2 separate regions of the Homo sapiens genome follow, and region 2 is linked to region 1. Evidence: fine-mapped expression QTL. A gene starts in region 1. The other region holds a variant in brackets. All regions are shown on one strand. Distances are from middle to middle.

Region 1 (2,912 bases):
GGCAGGTCCAGAATTTCCAAATAGATGGGGACAGAGGAGTAATCTGGAAGGAAGACTTGAAGATGCTTTTGCATAGTACTCTATATTAAGGTAGAAAATACCAGTTGGCCATATCAAAAAACTGAGAAAAAGCGATTTGAGGGAAATATTTCCCTCCCCTTTGGCACCACGATTGCTGTATTCTAGGCACTAAACCAAACCAAACCTCTTACCTAATCTCCTTTCTTCCTCAAAACAAGCCTATTAAGTAGATGAGGAAATTGAGGCTAGATTGGAATAGAAACTGGCTCAGGGTCACAAAGCACCTAAGGAGCACTTTAGCTCTCCCACAGCTTTCTACAGCTCTTTATATGCAACTAGTGTTTCTCATTACCCATCTTGATATAATGTGTATTTATGTGCGTTAGCTTCTCAATGGCAGAGTTAGTGTTATTCATTTCTGTATCCTTGTAGCCAAGAACAAGTATATATTTTGTTAAATTAAGCATGTGAAAGAATCAGGTGAGGATAGCATGAAGAAAGGCAGCAGGGGAAAGTTTCAAGAAATGGATGGTCAGCAGCGTCAAATGGTACAGAGAGAGCTATCAGTCTATCTTAAATCATCATTGGCATTCAACTGATATTCCATATTCGTTTATTGAACGTCTACTACACGCAGGACATTGTGTTAAGCACTACAAACACATAGGAAAAATAAAAGTCTCGTACAAGTAAAAGGATTTTCGGGGAAGTAGCTTCATCTAAATTCTTGCTCAGGAAAGCAAAACGAAGACTCAGGCCTGCAACTGCCTACATCTTATTTGGCTCAGGTAAATCGGAAGACAACTCAAAAGGGGCACAGCGCATCTTTAATAAAACTTCTCATGGAAGACGAGATAAAGAGCCACAGAAACTCAGTCTCGGTAACGATGGCCGGTGGCCACGGAGGCCGACTTCCCCCGGAGTCTCTCGCCTCCTGAGCAGCGCTGGGGCTGCCCCTCGCTCCCCCTCCGTAGTCTGGGGCGGGAAAAAGCAGACACTTACCGCAAAAGACACCGCTAAAGCCGTGGCCCTGAGGGGCCGGGAATTCCTTAGCGAGGCCCCACGCCGTCGGAAGAAACCCAAGAAAGCTGGGAGCAGACAGACAGGTATGACCCCACAACCCAACTTCCCGAACTAGATAAAGTAGGGTCCCAACGCCCAGCACCACGTCGTCAACTCCCACCAGCTGGAAGACCAACGGAGTGCCAGCGAACCTTCCGCCCAATGAGGAAACGTCACCACTCCGCGTAGTCCAGCCTTTCTATAGGAGAATCTACTTCCGCTTCCGGGGCACACCGCCGCGTTCCTTCTACGCGGCTCCTGAAACAGTTTAGATGTTTACTTGCTTACACTGGTTTTTGGTTTCAGTTTCCTACCGCTGAATAACTGCAGGAGTAAAGTTAGTGGTAAAATAGGAGGCTGTCTAGGGACGTGATTTCGGGGAAGAAGTCAGGCCTCGACGAGCCACCTTAAGAAAAGTGACTAGGCGGAGCACTCCCAGCTAAGAGCGGAAAGATGAGAGATAGAGGTGTGACTGAAGGCAGGGATCCCCAGGCGCACGTGAGACCTCCGTAGAGGGGCGGGGCTTAGGGCTTTGCAGACCGGAGGCTTGTTCCGCGGAGGGTGGGGCGGTCTCTGCTTGCGCATGCGCAATGCCAGCCAGTGCCTGCGCGGCTTGCTCCAGCAAGGTAAAATTTCCCACTGCGAGGCAGGCAGTGATGCTGCGGCCGCTTCGCACTGTGGCTCCTGCCGACCGCCAGGCGCTGTTACAGTGGATGCGAACTAACCGTAAGTGTAAGTGACCAGAGCTAGAGGCAGGTGGTGGGGGCAAGGATATGCTGCAGGCGCTGACTTTGAGGACTTAAGCGGGGTGAAGCCAACAGCCTTCCTTGGGATCGTTGTGCTGGTCTCTGCTGTCTTGGGGGGTAGATTGACCAGGGCTTTGAGTGCTCTAACGGAAAAGAGAGTTAGTTGCTCGCCACACGTAGACACCAATTAACAAGAGCGAGCCCTAGTATACAAGAAGAGGGATTTTATTTCTGAAGCCAGCCCGCTTCGTCTTTGGAGCAAAAAAGCGGGCATTTTATAAGGTACAAGAGGAAATGAGCAAGAGGTCTCTGCTAGCTGGTGCCTTATCTACCGGGTAGTTGAGTTGGTGCATTTCTGAGCAGAAATAAGTTGTAAAAGTGGCCAAGTGGGCATGCTTTCTGCTTACCCTTCTGAGGCGACCGCCTGGCGGTGGGAGTTGCGTCTTGGATCTCGTAGATGAATTTGCTCTGTAGAGAATGGTCTGGTGAGGGGAGTTGAGAGGTTATTTTGCAGTTCAAAAAGGGCTAAGTGGAAAGTGTAGTGGGGAGGGGAAAAGAGGGGAAAAAATAAACTATCTCTTGGAAAATGGGGGTAATCGGATACAGTACCACTTGGAATTAATTGGGTGTGGGAAACCTGGTTCTGAGTGGTTTGTGAGTTTTCAGCAGACTTCGGACAAGCCTTTAGAGCTCCTTGTGCCTAACCCTTTTTCTGAAAGAAAATAGAGGGTTAGCCCTCCTCCCCATTACTCCCACAAACTTGTTAGAATTGGTACGTTGCCACCTGAAAAAGCATTTTGCAGGAGAGGTTTTAGGCTGTAGCGTTAGTAGGAAGTGTTAAACGAAAAACCTTAGCCAAGTTAAATTTAACATTTTGAGCAAAGAATGATTCACGAATCGGGCAGGCTCAGAGAGATTGCAGCGCAGCCAAGTGTTGAAGATTTATAGACAGAAAAAGGCTGCAGTGAGCTTTGATCCCGCTGCTTCACTCCAGCCTGAGCGACGCAAGACCCTGTCTCTTTAAACACACACGTTAAAACTGAGGAAATGTGGTAGCTAGATCTAGTTACTGAAAAATGGGAT
Region 2 (2,912 bases), 55 kb after region 1:
GCTGGCAGCTCTTCAGTTTACAAATTACAGTGTGGACACAGGAAAAGAAATGGCTGTTTCTCAGTCCAAATGCCATGTCTCAGGAAAAGGCTCCAACCGGCCCACATTGGGGCAGATGTCCATCCCAGGACTTATCAACTGTCATCTATATTTGGGACAACCTCTATTGAAAATGATGATTTTCACTTCAATTCTGAGGAGTAGGCAGGAAAGGGAAACTTTTAGAAGGAGGATATAAGTAGAAAATCTAGGCTGGGGCCAGGCACGGTGGCTCATGCCTGTAATCCCAGCACTTTGGGAGGCCGAGGTGGGCGGATCACGAGGTCAGGAGTTCGAGACCAGCCTGACCAACATGGTGAAACCCTGTCTCTACTAAAAATAGAAAAATTAGCTGGGCGTGGTGGCATGTGCCTGTAATCCCAGCTACTCGGGAGGCTGAGGCAAGAGAATCACTTGAACCCATGAGACGGAGGTTGCAGTGGCCGAGATGGCGCCACTGCACTCCAGCTGGGGCAACAGAAGACAGAGTGAGGCTCCGTTTCCAAAAAAAAAAAAAAAAAGAAAGAAAATCTAGGCTGGGCATGGTGGCTCACGTCTGTAATCCCAGCACTTTGGGAGGCCAAGGCAGGTGGATCACAAAGTCAGGAGATCAAGACGATCCTGGCTAACACAGTGAAACCCCATCTCTACTAAAAATACAAAAAATTAGCTGGGCGTGGTGGCATGTGCCTTTAGTCCCAGCTACTTGGGAGGCTGAGGCAGGAGAATCACTTGAACCTGGGAGGTGGAGGTTGCAGTGAGCCAAGATTGTGCCACTGCACTCCAGCCTGGGCAACAGAGCCAGACTTCATCTCAAAAAAAAAAAAAAAAGAAAAAAGAAAAGAAAATCTAATTGGGGTTCACACACTAAAATATCAGTGTTAATAGTATTTTTACATTTGGAAATAATTATAGATTCACAGGAGGTTGAAAAATTAGTGCAGAGAGGTTCTCTGTACCCTTCACCCAGTTTCTCCTAATGGTCAGGTCTTACATAATTATAGTGCAATATCAGTTGTAAATTTTTTATTGAGACAGTTGATTTTCATATTCTTTCCCGTTTATTATAGCACATGTGCCTCACTCTTCATGGTAAATGTTTTACTGAAGAATAACATACAGAAAAGTGGACAAGTCTTAACTGCACAGCTCAATGAATTTCCATGAAGTAAATATACCCATATGATAATCCAGCTCAAGAAACAGAAAATCACTACCACCCCAGAAGACTGCCTTATACTACCATCTTTTAAGAGTGAATCACACATGGGGTACTCCTTGTATCTGGCCTCTTTCTTTTTTTCTTTCTTTTTAATTATTATTTTTGTTTGAGATGGAGTCTCATTCTGTCACCCAGGCTAGAGTGCAGTGTCATGATCTCGGCTCACTGTAACCTCTGCCTCCCGGGTTCAAGCAATTCTCCTGCCTCAGCCTCCTGAGTAGCTGGGACTACAGGCACCCGCCACCACGCCCAGCTGATTTTTGTATTTTTGGTAGAGACAGGGTTTCGCCATGTTGGCCAGGCTGGTCTCGAACTTCTGTCCTCAGGTGATCCACCCACCTCGGCCTCCCAAAGTGCTGGGATTACAGGCGTGAGCCACTGCACCCGGCCTGTTTCCAGCCTTTGTTCAACATTATGTTTGTGAAGTTAATCTGTGTTGTTTTATGTAATTATAGTTCACT[C/T]ATTCTTTCATGGGCTTAAATCTTTTTACAATAAAATTTTAAGAGAATAAAATTGTAAAAAAAAAAAGCTCATGACATGCAATAAACTGTATAATTTGATGCGTTTTGACATGTATACACCCATATCAGTACCACAGTCAAGATCATGAATACATCTATTTCCTCAAAATAGTCCATGAATTTTTTTTTTTGAGACAGAATCTCGCTCTGTCGCCCAGGCTGTAGTGCAGCGCGCGATCTCGGTTCACTGCAACCTCAGTCTCCCGGGTTCAAGCAATTCTCCTGCCTCAGCCTCCCGAGTAGCTGGGACTACAGACGCGTGCAACCACGCCCCTGTAGTCCCAGCTAATTTTTTGTATTTTTAGTAGAGATAGGGTTTCACTGTGTTAGCCAGGATAGTCTTGATCTCCAGACCTCGTGATCCGCCCACCTCGGCTTCCCAAAGTGATGCGTCCATGAATTTTTTAAAACTAAAAATGGGACCTGGATAAAGTGAACATCTTAGGGCCGTAATGACCTCCAGACCTTTTGCAGAAGGTTGGAATAGGTAATATTTATTTTTCCCTGTTGTTAAGAAGACTTTAATGAGAAAAGTTTCTATTATATATCTTCTGTATTTTAAATTAGCCAACATTTGTACGCACATACAACAAACTGGACTAAATTTTGGGATTTACTCCAATAAGTACAATAATAGTGTTTAGAGAGCTATAGATAAGAGAATATTTGCTTTATCAATCTTTTTTTACATGGCATTTTTAAAATATGCAGAATACTTTTGTTATAATGTACAGTTCTTCCATCTCCTTACTTATGTCATCACAGTGATTCATAGTTGAGGAATTATAAGAATAGAGGGGTCAAAAGACTGTAAAGTCAGAACAGCAAGATTTTTGACAAGGAAGGAAGACATATTCTGGCAAACTTAACATTAATGCCAGGAACAAGTCTAGATTGGATTTTCATAGGTGATTTGAGAGTACTTAAGGAAAAGACATGATCATTTAGAGCCAGCCTAAGTTTACCAAAAACAGGTTAAGCCACACTAACTTTATTTTTCAGATAAGATTAGCATATTCGTAGTCTGGAAAATGCTATACAAAGAATGTAAAGCATGAAACTACTTGTGGACCAAATGAAAAACTGTGGAGCAGATTATGATGCAGTTAGACCTTGCTTGAATGACTTTG

Direction of the effects. Positions count from the first base shown, and alleles are read on the strand shown. Sizes are in standard deviations (SD) of each study's normalised expression.
In carriers of allele C in region 2, the expression in stomach of the gene that starts at base 1,247 in region 1 tends to be lower than with T alone (moderate effect, 0.57 SD a copy in GTEx).

The links. PIP is the estimated chance that this variant, and not a neighbour inherited with it, causes the effect.
Region 2: its variant is fine-mapped to the expression of SRP54 in stomach (GTEx, PIP above 0.99).

What each region holds. Positions count from the first base shown.
Region 1 is chr14:34,981,327-34,984,238 of GRCh38, reverse strand. It overlaps SRP54 (signal recognition particle 54), which reads right to left and starts at 1,247. Exons shown (of 16, transcript NM_003136.4): 1 at 1,024-1,247. It overlaps SRP54-AS1 (SRP54 antisense RNA 1), which reads left to right and starts at 1,673. Exons shown (of 5, transcript NR_151701.1): 1 at 1,673-1,815. RefSeq lists enhancers at 777-1,036, 1,067-1,566, 1,747-1,836, 1,227-1,928, 2,047-2,096.
Region 2 is chr14:34,926,400-34,929,311 of GRCh38, reverse strand. The region is part of intron 2 of SRP54-AS1 (SRP54 antisense RNA 1); the gene reads left to right. Among named protein-coding and RNA genes, the nearest start is that of BAZ1A, 52 kb to the right of the region's middle. The variant C/T (reference allele first, on the strand shown) is at 1,723.